Regions from separate parts of the Homo sapiens genome. Here region 1 is linked to region 2. Evidence: fine-mapped expression QTL. A gene starts in region 2. The other region holds a variant in brackets. All regions are shown on one strand. Distances are from middle to middle.

Evidence for each region. PIP is the estimated chance that this variant, and not a neighbour inherited with it, causes the effect.
Region 1: its variant is the best candidate, but not a certain one, in a credible set for the expression of QDPR in T cells (TOPMed, PIP 0.56).

What each region holds. Positions count from the first base shown.
Region 1 is chr4:17,481,623-17,489,961 of GRCh38, reverse strand. It overlaps QDPR (quinoid dihydropteridine reductase), which reads left to right. Exons shown (of 7, transcript NM_000320.3): 7 at 2,726-3,567. The coding sequence ends at 2,831. Among named protein-coding and RNA genes, the nearest start is that of QDPR, 26 kb to the left of the region's middle. The variant T/A (reference allele first, on the strand shown) is at 3,872.
Region 2 is chr4:17,508,315-17,516,653 of GRCh38, reverse strand. It overlaps QDPR (quinoid dihydropteridine reductase), which reads left to right and starts at 4,564. Exons shown (of 7, transcript NM_000320.3): 1 at 4,564-4,704; 2 at 7,291-7,383. The coding sequence starts at 4,600. It overlaps CLRN2 (clarin 2), which reads right to left and starts at 1,489. Exons shown (of 3, transcript NM_001079827.2): 1 at 1,135-1,489. The coding sequence starts at 1,387. RefSeq lists a silencer at 4,356-4,935.

The sequences.
Region 1 (8,339 bases), 27 kb after region 2:
CGGTGAGGACAAAGATGGGATCCCTGCCCACAGGGAGCAGGGGTGCCGAGAGGGTCAAGGTGACAGCCTGACCCAGTAGTGCCTCTGTGTAAACTGCTTTGACGACTGTTTATAAGAGATGTTTGTGAAGTTAGCAGTGTGCTTCTGGCCTGATGTCACAATCTCATTTAAATTAAATCGGGAGAAATTTGGGACTTGCGTTTTATGTTTGAAATGTGTACTTACAGAACACTTTTTATGTCCCAGTCACCATTCTAAGCACTTCATAACTCTTATTTAATGCTCATAGCAAACTCTGAGGGAGGAGCTGTCATTTTTATTTAAGGCTTAGAGACTTGGAGGGATGGCAGGGGCTAAGTCACTCGCCTAAGGTCACACAGCACAGCCGGGATCTGACACAAGTGGTGTGGCTGCAGAACCTATGGTCTTAACTGGTGTGCTGACAGTTATTTCTGTCTATGCCAGGAATCATGCTTCATGCTTGATTTGCAGGAAAAAAATTGAAGTTGTAGAGGAAATCAAGCTTTGAATTGTGTTTGTGTTTGAATTTCTTTTTAAAGGCCGACACTCCCACCACACTTGAGATACTGATCTAAGACCTACTCTAGATGGAACATCTGGGATCTTGTGTCTGAACTCGTGCTGAGCCACAGACCCACAGAGGACGGGCTGTCACAGGCCCCCTTTTGTTCTAGAGATCACATCCACCCATTTGTGGTATTTGAAAACTCTCAGAAAAGCTGGCATAAAGTTTGCTTTGAGATGTCTGTGAGCACATCCTTCCTCTACCATCCCTGGTTAGAATGGCGTTCTCACTCACCTATCCACGCTGCAGATGAGGGTGAAGAAGTAAAACCATTTAAAACATGCATCGCAGCAAACCAACATGGCACATGCATACCTGTGTAGCAAACCTGCACGCTGTGCACATGTAGCCTAGATCTTAAAGTATAAAAAAACAAAACAACAAAAAAACATGTGTAACCAACACACAAAACCCTACACAACCAAACGGCACTGGTCTCTTTCAGAGCCTTCCCTCACCAAGCCCTACCCTGTCCCCAGAGATGAGGCCATGACATGACAGTACTTTAGAGAGTTTTAGCAACGCTTTGTTTTTTGAGCCCATGTGCTCATATGAGCTTGTTCAAACCCCAGAGTAGGGGCCTGAATGACTGGACCTTTACACATCAGCGCTGGCCCAGAAGGTTACAGATTGGCACTGGGAGTCTCCCAGGAAGGAAATGCTGAGCACTTTTTAGTTAATGAAGGTCCGAAGTCTCAGCTGGTGAATTGTCAAAATGGATGATGTACTCAAATGTAAATGTTTTGTGTTAAAGAATTATCATCTACTTCTTGTTTCTTGTGAATTTCTTTTGCCCTTTTTCATTCCTGTCTTCTTAGAGGGTCTTTTTGACTGCTGCAAGTGGGGTCAGTTGCTCCTCTCCTCAGATTTGTGAAAGGCCCTGTTACTGTATTTAACATTTTATTGTAATAGTCTGTTTTTTTCTATCTCTTTTTCCATTGTTTGGTGCAGCTGTGGGTACTCTATAAATGTTTGATTAAAAAAATGCCAAATAAATGAATTGCATCTGTTTCTCTCATAAATTTATGAGAAGGTAATATAGCAAAGTATTGTGCATGTGTCTCTCTCTTTGAATGAACTAATTAAAATCTTTAAAAACAATTTTTTTTTTTTTTGAGACAGGGTCTCACTGGGTCACCCAGGCTGGAGTGCAGTGTCACGATCATGGCTTACCCTAGCCTTGATCTCCGGGGCTCAAGCAATCATCCCACCACAGCCTCCTGAGTAGCTGGGACTACAGGCATGTGCCATGCCCAGCTATTTTTTGTATTTTTTTAGAGGTAGGGTTTCACCCAGTTGCCCAGGCTGGTCTCAAAAACTCCTGGGCTCAAGTGATCCACCTGCCTCAGCCTCCCAAATTGCTGAGATTACAGGTGTGAGCCACCACGCCTGGCCAAATTAGAATCTTTTAAAATCACAAAAGAATTCCAACAATGTAGAAAAATACCAAAATGAAAGTTAAACTTATGCCAAATCCTGCCACTCAGAGATTAGAATGAGTACACCACTGAACTCACTGGGGGCCTGGGTATGTGTCCATCATGCCTACTGGCTTTTATTAATTTTTTATTATTTTTTGGAGATGGAATCTTGCCATTGTGTCCAGGCTGGCCTCAAACACCTGGGCTCAAGCGATCCGCCCGCCTTGGCATCTCAAAGTGCTGGGATCATAGGGGTGAGCCATAATGCCTGACCTTTAGTGGCTTTTATTTATTTATTTATTTATTATTTTTTGTGAGACGGAGTCTCATTGTGATGCCCAGGCTGGAGTGCAATGGTGCAACCTCGGCTTACCTCTGCTTCCCGGGTGCAAGTGATTCTACTTCCTCAGCCTCCTGAGTAGCTAGGATTACAGGCACGTGCTACCACGGCCAATTTTTGTATTTTTAGTAGAGATGGGGTTTCATCATATTGGCCAGGCTGGTCTCGAACTCCTGACCTCAAGCGATCTGCCCGCCTCGGCCTCCCAAAGTGCTGGGATCACAGGTGTGAGCCATGGCGCCCAGCCCTTAGTGGCTTTTAAACAGTCGCTGCTGTGCCACCCCTTCCCCCCACCCCACAAGCCGTCACTGTGAAGGTCAGCATGTGCCCAGATTTTTGCTTTGAGAATATAAAAAAAACTTTTATTTTCTGTTCCAGAACTTTCCATGACTGGATCACAGGGAAAAACCGACCGAGCTCAGGAAGCCTAATCCAGGTGGTAACCACAGAAGGAAGGACGGAACTCACCCCAGCATATTTTTAGGCCTCATCTCAGTGCCTATGAGGGGCCTGCCAGAAAAGTCACTAACCTGTCTCAGTGTGGCCTTGTCCAGCCTTGTGTTTTCTGTAACCCCTGTTTGTGGTACGAGATAATGAGTCCTATTTTTCTCTCACATAATATGCATTTGCTCTCCTAGGACAGTGTAATACATTTATGTGAAGTAAAGACATGCGAGACTGGTGGCCTGCAAATAGCATCCGTTGATCTGTGTTAACTGCATAGGGAGGGCTCTGCATAGCACCTGCTATAGCGGTGTCATGTTGGATCGCTTTTGTGACTGTTCATCTGTCCTTGACAGTGGCTGTCATCTTGACTACTTTGTTGATTTGTTGGTATTGGGGACATTTTAAAGGCTGAGTTATTTTTGAATGTCATGTTTATGTCATAGACGTAGTTTTCGCATCCTTGAATTAAACTGCCTTAACTCCTTTTGTGGTATAAGCAAAACTACATGGACTCTGTCCTGGTATCCTTTTCCTGTGTGGTTGCCCCGTGTCCTCTGGCCTAGGGTTAAGTGTGCAAGATAACTACTCGTGAGTATTCAGAATGTTGTTCCTAATAAATGCACTTGTTGTCTGTCTTCTTTAATCAAATCACATCTTATATACAGCAGTCAGAGATGAGTATACTAGAATCATGGATTGCTGGAGGTCTTTTAATCTGATGTTCTCAGAAGGGGGTGGATTTAAATCCTGAAATAAATATTTCAACACAAGAACACAGGCCTGATTCTGCCTTGGACATGTCAAAATCTGGGGGTGATGGGATGGCCCTGTGCATTTAGAAGCAGCTCTCCACATATGGCCAATGTAGGCTGTCCTGGTTGAGAACTAGTAGTGGTTTAATCCAACCCGATCATTTTACAGATGAGGAAACTGAGGCCCAGAGAGACATTACCTTGTTGCCAGTAACTGGCAGAGCTAAGCCCAGATCTCTAGTCACCAGACAGTTGCTGTTTTTAAAGGCCTTTACCACGTATTTTCTTTCTTTTTTTAGTGAGGTGAAATTCACATAATTTTTTT[T/A]TTTTTTTTTTGAGACAGAGTCTTACCCTGTCGCCCAGGCTGGAGTGCAGTGGCGCCATCTCGGTTCACTGCAAGCTCCGCCTCCTGGGTTCACACCATTCTCCTGCCTCAGCCTCCCGAGTAGCTGGGACTACAGGCGCCCACCACCACACCCGGCTAAGTTTTTTTGTATTTTTAGTAGAGACGGGGTTTCACCGTGTTAGCCAGGATGGTCTTGATCTCCTGACCTTGTGATCTGCCCACCTCGGCCTCCCAAAGTGCTGGGATTACAGGTGTGAACCACTGCACCCGGCCAAAATTAGCCATTTTAAGGCTAATTTTAAGTATTAAAAGTTAAGTAGGTGAGCAGTTCAGTGGCATTTAGCACATTTACAGTAGTGCATAATCACCACCTCTGTCTAGTTCCCAAACATTTCCATCACCCCAAAAGAAAAACCAGAGCTCTTTAAGCAGTTCCTCCCCATTCCTGCTCCCTAACCCCTGCAACCACCAATCTTCATTTTGTTTCTGTGAATTAATTCTGGGTATTACTATTTTTTTGAGACAGTCTTGCTCTTACCCAGGCTGAAGTACAGTGGCATGAACATGGCTCACTGCAGCCTCGATTTCCTGGGCTCAAGCAATCTTCCCACCTTGGCCTCTCGAGGAGCTGAGACTACAGGCACGTGCTGCCACACCCAGATATTTTTTAAAGTTTTTTGTAGAGACAGGTCTTGCTATGTTGCCCGGGCTGGTCTCAAACTCCTGGACTCAAGCAGTCCTCCTGCCTTGTCTTCCCAAAGTGCTGGTATTACAGGCGTGAGCCATTGCACCTGGCCTGTTCTGGGTATTTTGTATAAATGGAATCAGTATGTGACCTTTTGTATCTGGCTGCTTCTACCTAGCTTTATGTTTTCCATGTTCTTCCCCATTGCATCATGTATCAGTACTTTCTTTCTTTTTGTGGCATAATATTCCATTATATGTATCCACTGCAATTTTGTTTACTGATCTGTTGATAGACATTTGGGCTGTTTCCACCTTTTGGCTGTTGTGAGCATTGCCGCTGTGAACATTCATGTATAAGTGTTTGTGTATCTGTTTTCAATGATTTTGGATATATACCTAGGAGCAGGATTGTTCGACCATATGGTAATTTTTGTGTTTATCTTTTTTTTTTTTTTGAGATGGAGTCTTGCTCTGTTGCCCAGGCTGGAGTGCAGTGGTGCGATCTCAGCACACTGTAACCTCTACCTCCCAGGTTCATGTGATTCTCCTGCCTCAGCCTCCCGAGTAGCTAGGACTACAGGTGTCCACCACCACACCTGGCTATTTTTTTTTTTTTTTTTTGTATTTTTAGTAGAGATGGAAGAGACAGAGTTTCACCATGTTGGCCAGGCAGGTTTCAAACTCCAGACCTCAAGTGATCCACCTGCCTCGGCCTCCCAAAGTGCTTAGAATTACAGCTGTGAGCCACTGCGCCTGGCCTCTATGTTTAACTTTTGAGAAGTCTCTTGATTCTTGCCACTACGAGGTGATTTTATCCAACTATTACAGGAAAGAAAATGGGAGCTCAGAAGGTTGGACTGCTTGTTCAAAGTCACCTAGCTAGAGAGCTGCGCAGCTGGAACTAGTATACAAGTCTAGCTGTTGAAAGCACCCTGAGCACATTACCTCATGCTGTACCTTGCATGTCTTGTTGTTTTCAATTTTCAGATGAAGAAACAGTTCCACACACTAAGAGACTTAACGAGGGTACAGTTAGTTTCAGGAGAGCTGGTAGTTTTCATTCCGTTTAGAACCGGACCTGGTAACTGTTGATTATCCTAATAAATGCACTTCATTTATCGTGTTGCCTTTTTATTTTGAGACAGAGTCTCGCTCTGTCACCCAGGCTGGAGTGCGGTGGCATGACGTCGGCTCACTGCAACCTCCGCCTGCCTGGTTCAAGCGATTCTTCTGCCTCAGCCTCCCGAGTAGCTGGGACTACAGGCGTGCACCACTACACCCAGCTAATTTTTATATTTTTAGTAGAGACGGGGTTTCACCACTTTGGCCAGGATGGTCTCAATCTCTTGACCTCGTGATCCGCCTGCCTCGGCCTCCCAAAGTGCTGGGATTCACAGGCGTGAGTCACCGTGCCTGGCCTGTCTCTTTAATCAAATCACATCTCATATCCAGCAGTCATAGATGAGTATGCTAGAATCATGGACTGCTTGGAAGTCTTTTAATCTGGTGTTTACCTACTCATCCGTTGGTGGAAATTTGGGCTGCTTATTAATTATTAATTATTTTTAATTATTGAATACCAGATCTGGTTTCTAAATGGAATGAAGACTACCAGCTCTCCTCAAACTAATTGATTATTGAGGTGTGTTTCTTTTCCTTCCCTGGTGATGTGCAAAGAGAATGAAAAGGGAAAAGGGGCCAGGAAGGAGATGTTTTTTCTCCTTCATTCATTCAACAGCTAATCTTGAGTACCAACTGTGTACAAGGCACTAACCTAGATGCCTGGGACACATAAAGAACAAGTAGACAAAGACTCCTACCCTTAATCATTGAGTTTTATTCTAGATGGGGGAGAGGGTGACAGATAATAAACAATAGAATTCATAATATGAATTCATTGGAGAGTACGAGAAAGGTGAACTGTGGGGGGAAGAGAGCAAGGTAAGGGGGTGAAGGAGTGTTGGGGAGATTGGGATTGCAATTTCAGAAATGGTAGTGTTATGAACTGAATGTGGGTGTCTCCCCCAAATTTGTATGTTCAAGACCTCACTCTAATGTGGCTGTATTTGGAGATGGGGCCTCTAAGGAAGTAACTAAGATGAAATGGGTTCGTGAGGATGGGCACTGATTCAACAGGATTAGTGTTCTTATGAGGACAGACACCAGAGTTCTCCCTCTCACTTTCTTCCCACACGCATGCACTGAGGAAAGTCTGTGTGAGGACACAGCAAGGAGGCTGCCGTCCACAAGCTGAGAAGAGAGCCCTCACAAGAGATGGAATTGACTGGAGCCTCAGTCTTGGACTTTCAGCCTCCAGAACAGAGAAAATAAATGTGTGATGTTAAGCCACCCACTCTGTGGTGTTTTGTTATGGCAGCCCACACTAATACAGGCAGTGATGGAATATCTCGTGAGGAAGTGACGTTTGAACACATCTGAAAGAAAGTGTAGAAGGCAGCCAAGGGCATCTGAGGTAAGGACATTTTAAGACAGAGGAACCAGTCATTGCAAAGAGCCTGAGGCAGTAGTGTACCAGGTGGGGTGAGGAACACAGGGAGGCTGGGTTGGCTGGGGCAGAGAATGGAGCAAACAGAGGGGCAGTTTCAGGAGATAAGATCAGACAGATGATTGTGTAGGGTAGGGGTCCCCCAATTTTCTAGGCCCACAGTGCCCTTAGTGTCTCAGTAATTTTTTACAATGCCCCTACATCAAAGAAACTAACTAATGATTTGGATTTACAAGTGGTTGGGTTCTAACAATTTTATAGTAGTAATATGACTGATATTGCTCTATGACCTAGAACATGGAAAGTACCCTGTAGAGTCCCTGTGAATGCTGCCTTGGAGTGCCTTGGTGCACAGTTTGGGAATAGCAAATGTAAGGGGGTGTTGGGCATTTTAAGGATTTGGTTTTGGATTTTGGGAACTACCGCAAGGATTTTGAGCGAAAGAGTGGCATGATATATTTTAAAAGATTGCTCTGGCTGTTGTGTTGAGGATAGTACTGAGGTTTTTGCAAGAATCCAGGCAAGAAATGACAGTGGTTAGGGTGGTAGCAGTGGAGGTCGTGAGAGGAGAATTGGGAAATGGTGGATATTTTGAAGACAGATTCAAGAGGATTTCCTGGTGGATTTAATGTGACGGTAAGAGAGAAAAGAGTCAGTGATGTCTCCCAAAGTTTTTCACGTGAGCAAATGGATTAAGTTAGCAAGTGTGATAGAGAAGGCTGTGGATAGAGCAAGTATTGGGAGTATCTGGAGTGTTGTTTTGGACATAGAGGTTTACTCTATTAATACCCCAGTGGAGATGTTAAGTGGGCAGTTGTATTAAGTCTGGTGTTTGAGAGAGAGAGAGATCTAGGGGTCCTGAGAGATCTGGGGGTCCTAAGCAGTTAAAGTTATGAGACTAGGTGAGATCACTAAGGGAATGTGTTGGCCAGGGTCCAGAAGACAGAAGCCATGCAGTATTGTGAATGAGGTCAGTGTAATATAAAGAATTATCGAGTAGCAAAGATTAATTCTAAAAGGCTAATGAGAACTCTGAAGAATATTCTTGTGCCGAGGGACAGCACTTGAGGAACAAATTTGGAAGACAAGTCCCTCCCCAAGGCTGGGACCTGAGCTTCATTGGAGAAGGTATGGCGGTGGACATAGAGTAGGACATAGAGAGGTGGACATGGAGAAGTTATGGCACTGGACAGCAGAGTTTGTTGGGTTCCCTGGGCCTGTGTTGGTCTACAGCCACTGGGGAAGCAGGAAGCA
Region 2 (8,339 bases):
AGGTAAATATAAATATGCCCAGACATATTGATCTTGAATATACATAACAAATGTAAATTTTTGTGTGTTTAAATGATGACAATTTGTATTATATTTGTCAACGGTTCCAGCTTTTTGTCCTTATAAATTTAATACGACATTTACCTTGGCCAGATTTCTATAAACTACTACAATACTGAAATATAGAAATCAAGGAATGAATACAATTCTGTATCACCCTACATTGGCATGGTATTGATTAATTACGGTTTTGTGCAGACACTTTTCACCAGTGATCTCATCGATTCAAAAGGCTTGCAGAATATTGCCTGTTTTGTTTTTTCCTTTCCAGAAGCCCGTTCCTAAGTCCAGCTTGGATTCCTGTTTGTGCAGACTGCTCTGCTTACATCCTGGGCAGCTCTGATGCTACACTGAATGCCAGCCAAAGTCGGTGCCCGCTCACGTTCACAGAGAACAGGCAAGTGCCTTGCTTGAGGTCTCCCCACCAGTAAACTTTCCAGTAGGGGTTTCAGCCAGGGTAGTCTGATTCCAGAACCCAAGCACAGTGCCCCTTTGCATTTTCTCAGACTATGAAGCTTTTACAAAAGTAGATGTGGAAAGGGTCATCATGCTTCCCAAAGGTTCAGTTCTGCAGGCAGCCTCCACCCACTTGTTGTGGTCATGTGGCATGGGTCTGGAGTCCGGCTCTACTGTTTCCTGGCTGGGTGACCTCAGGTAAGTTATGTAACCTCTCCAAGCCTCAGTGTACTCCTCTGGAAAATGGGAACATTAACAATTCCTTCTGTATAACTTTGTTGTAAGGCTTTAAGGAGACAAGTGGCGTGAGGTGCTTACAATGTCTGACACGTGTAAACTCTCAATATTTTAATAGTCATAATTAATAGAGGTAAACTGCAAAAATGCACAAATCCTTATTTCTAATGTTTCTATACATCTCTACAGAAAAAGAAAAGGAAGCAAGGAAGGAAGGAAAGATCTTTTTGATGTGGATCCAGAACCCTTGGCTCACTGTGGACTTTGACATTATGCCTGACGTTGAGGCAGCAGCCAAATTCCACAATGAGACATAAGCACTCTTACACATTAACAAAAATGAGTGCCTAGAATCAGCTTTCATGCTCCCAATATACTCACTCGTGAATTGGGATTGGCGGCCCCCAAGCCCACACTGCCGCACTTTACACCCTCGGAAGAGCCCGTAGTAAATGTCCCCAATGAACTTGACCAGCTCTCTGTCTGTGGCGTTGACCAGATCCACTCCAGTCTGACAAAGGATTTTCCCACTCAGCCAGTGGGGCACTACCAGGGCAACGATGATCAGGATGAAGGAGGAGAAGCTGAGTAAAGACGCCAGCCCATACCACGCCTTTTTGAACCATCCAGGCATGCTAGTGGGTGCAGGTCATCCCCAAGGTCTCCGAGCAGCAGCGAGGGTCATTGACATCTTTCAGATACTCGGCAATGCTCTGCTCCAAGGTCAGCTCTTCCAAACACTCTGTTTCAAGGTTGTAGGTCCATCCTCTCGTCCTCCTTCAGCGCAAGCTTGCACAGTCCATGCTTCCTACAACCACATCCAGAAGCCTCTACAGAGACAATCTTCACCTGACTATGTAGCGGAGTGTGTTACTGAAGGAAGTAACCTTATATCTCCTCCTAGACTAATGTTTCAGCAGACTGTTTAACTGTTCCTCGTTTCAAGTATTTAAATAGCCCTGGTGTGGACCTCGTAATGATAAAGGAGTTAGTAATAAGCAAAATCAGGTAGCTCTGAAGATTAAGAGACGCAAACCAATCTCAAAAAATGCATGTGTTAGAAGGAAAACAAAAACAGAATGATTAGCACTTGAATATTGCCAACAATGCGCAGTATCAAATGTCGATCTCGCTGATGCATGGGTGCCCTGGCATTTCTTTCTCTGAAATGTCACTGCTGTCAGAATCTTTAGGACTGTTATTAATACCATCAAATGACCCCGGTTCTTGGGGCTTTAATATTGAAATGTGTAAATAGGGCCTTATGAATTTCTCACTGTGTGAATCTGCTGGGGGTAAACTGTGACTAGAATTACTTTGTGGCTGTTGGGGTAGCCTGGAATCCAACACTTAACATTGCTCTCACCCGTCCCTCCTTCTACGTTATCTGAAATGGGAGAGAAAAGTGTTTTTCTAGTGTATTAGCAAATAGTAGCCACACTGCTGGGGTATTCATCTCTTCTAATAGTGGAAGATCTAGGCTTTCCTTTTAATCTGTAGATACTAGGAATGAAATATTCTTTCCTTTCTATCTTATACTGTGGACTTTGACATTTTGACTTTTACCTTATTCCTGAATATCAACTTAACATCATGTGAGACTGGCAACAGTCACTCTATCCATATCTCTGGGGAGCAAAGTTGGGCAAAAGTGGAGCAGTAAAATTTCTTAGTTGGTCACAGAAGCCTGAAGGGGGGTTCAGGAAGTTGCACTGTTAACCAATAGGGGTCCCAGGAATCTCACTTGGAGAGTGTCAAGGAAGCAGAGGGACACATTAATGGAAATGTCAGTTTCCTTCCTCGCAACTGGGGCTCACTTCAGTGGCCACTCCACAATGAAAATAAAAATGAGAATTTCTGAGCCTGGGCAATGTAGTGAGACCTTATCTCTACAAAAAATAAAAAAAAAAAATAGTTGGGCCTGATGGCGTGTATTTGTAGTCCCAGCTACTGGAGGCTGAGGCTGGAAGACTGCTCCAGCCCAGGAGCTCAAGGCTGTAGTGAGCTATGATCATGCCACTCTGAGTAACAGAGTGAGATCCTGTCTCTTACTATATATACAGATGAGTGGCACTTTACCATGTACAAAATGCAAAATGCTTTGACCATATGCTTGCTCACCTCTGATGCTCCAGCAACCCTTTAAGGTAAACAGGAGATGCACGATTTCAGCCATTTCTCTCATGAAAAACTGGATGTCAGTGCTGGGGCTGAAATTCAGGTCTTTGAATTACAACAGCTCATCTTCATCCCAGTGACTTTGAAACAGCAAATGTTTTTCTGGTAAAAAATAACAGAATACATATAAAAGGCTCAGAAGACTGCTTGGCACATTAAGTGATCAATAATGTTAGTTCACGTTCTTATTTTAACATTAAGCATGCTTTGACAAGTCAGGACTTGCGTAAATATCATTGAGTCATATTTCTGCCGTCAGTGAGGGACCTGTGTCAACTTTTGGTGTTTTGAGGGTTAAGCAATTGTTTTCAGAAAAACTCTAAGGGAAACACTTGATTCCCAACAAGCCTTTGTCTTGCTGAACAAAGGTGTGGTTAAGTGGAACTCTAGCTATTGAAGACCTGTGTTCAAATTCCCACTCTTCCAGACAAGTGTCTGTGACTCTCATGCCTCAGCTTTCTAATCTGCATAGGATTATCGTGTGGAGTAAAGTGAAATAGCACAGGCAGATCACTTAGCGCAGTGCCTTGGATATAAGGAGCACTAAATAGATGGTGCTCTCCTCTCCATCCAGCCTCCTAGCAGTTCTATTTCTGATAATGAAGCTTCTGACAACAAAATGTGCTGCTGGCTGCATCCTCTTCTCTAGTGACATATTTCTGCATGCTTTACCTGGCACAAGTTTACTGAACAAACATCTGTGTCTGCTGTGTACAAGGTTATATGTGGATGGGAAGTGACACAAAGATGTATGTAATACAGGGTTCTGCTATCAAGAAGGTTATGAGAGTGTTAGAGCTCTGGTTCTCTATCAGTGATGAATTTGCCCCTAGGAGACAACTGTTAAATCTGGAGATATTTTTGATTCTTATGAGTGAGGGGTAGGGGTTTGCTATTGATTTCTAGTATATGCAGGCCAGGGATGCTGTAAATATCCTACAGTACCCAGGGCAGCACCTGTCACAAATAATTATCTGGCCCAAAATGTCAGTAGTGCTGTAGATGAGAGGCTCTGTGTTAAAGATACAGGCCATGGGCAGAAATAACTAATATACAAGGGAGAAAATGCCAGGATCTGTGTCTGGCGATGGGTGGCATATAGTAAAAGGGCCATTTGGATTAATGGGTATAAATTTACGGTTAGATAGAAGAAATAAGACCTAGTGTGGTTTGTCTCGTCTCGGCGGTGGACTTTCAGCTCCTTGAGCGGAGCGACCTCTTCTGTTTTTTTGGCAGGTGGGAATACTTAAATCTCTATTTTGATGCACAATTAAAAATAAAAAATTGCCAAAACAGTGGTCGAAAATTGTACTATACTATATTTTACATGCTTACACTTCACAAATTAATGCTCGTAAAACACCCGCTCTCCACCCTCCTCGCCCTTAGCCCGGCTCGCTGCACGCCCCGAGGCCCAGCACTTGCTGGCGGGTGGGAGGAGGGGCTTCGCCGATGTCCCCGTCCCAGGGGCAGGGCCTGGCCGAAGTTACAGTCCCTCCGGGTGGCGGGGCGCCCCGAGCGTGGCAGCGCGCTAGGCGGCAGCAGCGGGCGCGGAGCGGGGCGCGGCCGCCGCGCGTTCCCTCTTGGCGGGGTTGGCCGGCCGGGGCGGGGCGCGGCGCTCCGGCTCGAGGCATTCGGAGCTGCGGGAGCCGGGCTGGCAGGAGCAGGATGGCGGCGGCGGCGGCTGCAGGCGAGGCGCGCCGGGTGCTGGTGTACGGCGGCAGGGGCGCTCTGGGTTCTCGATGCGTGCAGGCTTTTCGGGCCCGCAACTGGGTAATGCTGCGGGCTGGGGCTGCTGGGTCTCCGCGGGGGTGGCCGGGGGCTTTCGTGTGGAACCCGGCGGGGGGCAGTCTAGAGGAAGGTGGGGGCCCCTGTGCACCCCCTGACTCGTGTTGCTTGCACGTGCGCGCACAGGTCTACGCGTCTATTCCTGTTTCCGAGTGCGTGCGCACGCCAGTCCCAGGGCGCTGGGCCTTTGCTGTGCAAGGAGGTGCTCCGTGGGCCTCCGCCAGACCCAAAAAGTCCGGCGTGACTCGGGAGAGAATTCCAAAGGGGAGGAACGGGAGCAGGGGTGAGAGGACGGAGAGAGAGTGTAGAAGGAAGGCTCTAGAATGAGACAGCCCAGTCCCGGTTACTAGTCATGAGACCGCGTATTGATTACCTAACGCCGTAGGACCTCGGTTTCCCCATTTGTACAACGGAGATTCTGACAGTGAGAGTTGGGACGATTAGATGAGATAATTGGTGTCGTTGCACATAAATTACCTGACGCCTGGTAAAAACTGTTTAAATGCTGTCTATTAATGTTACTATTACTACCCACCCCTGTTCTTTTAGCCCCATTGGATCTGACAGTTTGAAGGCTCAGCACGGAAAAACGCTGACGGCTTCTTTGCTCTGCAAAGACTATTTCAACTACTTTGCATAGTCAGGTGTCAATTTCCAGGAGGCGGCAAGTCGGAGCAGAGCTGATACATGGCCAAAGACCCTTGACCTCAGCCGCTCAGCAGGCCTCAGCAATTTCCCGGTGGAGACACTGCCAGCGGCAGCGTTCTGGGAGCTTAGTTAGCAGCAGCAGCACAGCAGCCTGGGCAAGAGTTCCCCTGGGACCAGAAAAAGGCTTTCAGGATTTTCTTTAAAAAAAAACTATCTAATTTTTATAGATGAAGGGGGCAAAAGTACAGTTTAGTTACATGGATATGTTGTGTAGTGGTGAAGTCTGGGCTTTTAGTGTAACCATCACCCAAATAGTGTACATTTACCAAGGTTTTCTTGTTGCTCAGAATCTGGTACAGGAATATGCTTCTGAAGAATTCAGTCACACCACTCCCTTCCTGCCACCCATCTGCTCAGTGCTTGGGGACACTGATGAGGGCGCTTTCCCAGGTCTTCAGAGATGCATGGTGGTGACAGAGGCAGCACTTCTGCCAAGGGCCAGGCACTGTGTTCCCAGTACCAGAGTTCCCATAGACTCTTAATGCCCCCAATATCTTTAAGGCAGTAGATCCTGTTAGCGTCATGTGTTAGAGGGTGAAGGCTGTGCTTTCTCCTGGTGGTGGCACTTTGGTTTACCTTGGTCTTGGCAGAATCTGGAGAGCTGATTTACCTCTGGCTCTTGGTCTTTCCCCTCCGAGCTTCTTCCTGCCATCTTAGGGAGGGCTAGGATGATGGAGACTTTTCATTGTTTCAGTATCCCCCATGGGATAACAAGTTAATTAATAATATAACAAATGTTGATGAATAGATGCTGTGTTTACAGCTTAAGGTAGAGATAATTATCTCTGGGGACTTCAGACCAAGAGACCCTGAGTAAGGACTGAACATCCCCTGTGCCAGGAGCTTTAGCATCTTCCATTTCATTTAATTCTTACACTGACCCTGTTAATCATCAACAAACAACCTCTTTTGTTGGGAACCTCTGCCCGGCATCGGAGTGAGAAAGCCACTCTGGCAGAGCTGGGATTCAAACCTGATCTGTCTGATTTCCAATCCTAAAGTCCATCCCTCTCTGCTGCAGGACAGGGATCCTTTGTGAGCTGAATCTGGTCTGCCACCTGTTTTTGTACAGCCCAAGAGTTAAGAATAGTTTTACATTTTCAGGTGGTTGAAAAGAAAATCAAATGAAGAATTATATTTTGTTGTATATGAAAATTAATGAAATTCACATTTCAGCTCTGAAGATTTATTGGAACACAGCTGCACTTATTTTTTCCCCCTATTTATTGCTGTGTTCTGTTACAATTGCAGATTTGAGTAACAACAGATACCATATGGCCAGCAAAGCCTAAGGTAATTGTGATCTGGCCCTTTACAGAAAATTTGCTGGCCCTTGATGTCTCTAGAAGTGCAGGGTTTGTGTTTTAGAGGTGAATGTGGAGGCGGAGTAGAGTGTTTGGAGGTAGGAGGGCCTGGGATGGAGCCCAATATAGGGTGTGTTTTCATTGAAGCCTCTTACCTGTCTCCACTCTGCTCCTTTATTTTTCTTTCTTTTTCTTTTTCTTTTATTTAAATGGAGATAAGGCCTCCTTCTGTTGCCTAGCCCGGAGTACAGTGGTGCGATCATAGCTCACTGAGCTCAAGTGATCCTCTCGCCTCAACCTCCCGGGTAGCTGGGGCTACAGGCATGTGCCACCACACCTGACTAATTTTAAAATTTTTTTGTAGGGACTGGGTCTTGCTATGTTGCCCAGGCTGGTCTCAAACTCTTGGCCTCAAGAGATCCTCCCACATTGGCTCCCAAAGTGCTGGCATTACAGACGTGAACCACTACACCTGGCCAACTCCCCTCATTTCTATGTGTGACTCTTTCATGGAATAACAACTCACTGCCTCTTAACCAAAGCTGTTTTCTCCTTCCAGTGGGTTGCCAGCGTTGATGTGGTGGAGAATGAAGAGGCCAGCGCTAGCATCATTGTTAAAATGACAGACTCGTTCACTGAGCAGGCTGACCAGGTAGTTTCAAAAAGGCCCCCAAACATTGTGAGGGGAACCCTGGGGAGAGGTGACCACTGGCTGTATGTTCTTCCTTTGGCTGTATGTTCTTCCTTTTATTTCTTTTTTTCCCCGAGACGGAGTCTTGCTCTGTCGCCCAGGCTGGAGTGCAGTGGCATGATCTCCGTTCACTGCAACCTTTGCCTCCTGGGTTGAAGCAATTCTCCTGCCTCAGCCTCCTGAGTAGCTGGGATTACAGGTGCCTGCCACCACCCCCAGCTAATTTTTTGTATTTTCAGTAGAGACGGGGTTTCACCATGTTGGCCAGGCTGATCTTGAACTCCTGACCTTGTGATCCGCCCGCCTTAGCCTCCCAAAGTGCTCGGATTACAGGCATGAGCCACCGCGCCTGGCCTGTTCTTCCTTTTTTTTAAAGCTGTTGTTTCTCTAACTAGGAAAGCCATTTGTGTTCATTGAGGAAAATTTGGAAAAAGTGAAAAATGATACAAAGATAAATTATATAATCATTTTGAGTTAGTTCACTGTTAACATTTTGGCCTATTGTCTTTTTCTATGCATATTGTATGTTACTCCTTTTACAAGTTTAGGTAATTTTGTATTTTATAGTTTATGGTAAGCTTTGTTTTTTTTTTTTTTTATACTTAAATAATTCTCCAGATTACTGAAAAAACCTCTTTGTAGATGTGTGATATTCCATTTTATGGAATGGCCACAATTTATTTAGTTTGTTTATTGTACATTTGAGTTTTTTGCAGGATTTTTGTTTTACTATTGTCAAGAATGTTGTGATGAACGTCTTTGTCTACATATCTGATTATTATTGTTTTTTGTTTTAAGAGAGTCTTGCTCTACTGTTGACACTGGAGTGCAGTGGCACAATCTCAGCTCACTGCCACCTCTGCCTCCCGGATTCAAACAATTCTTGTGCCTCAGTCTCCTGAGTAGCTGGGATTACA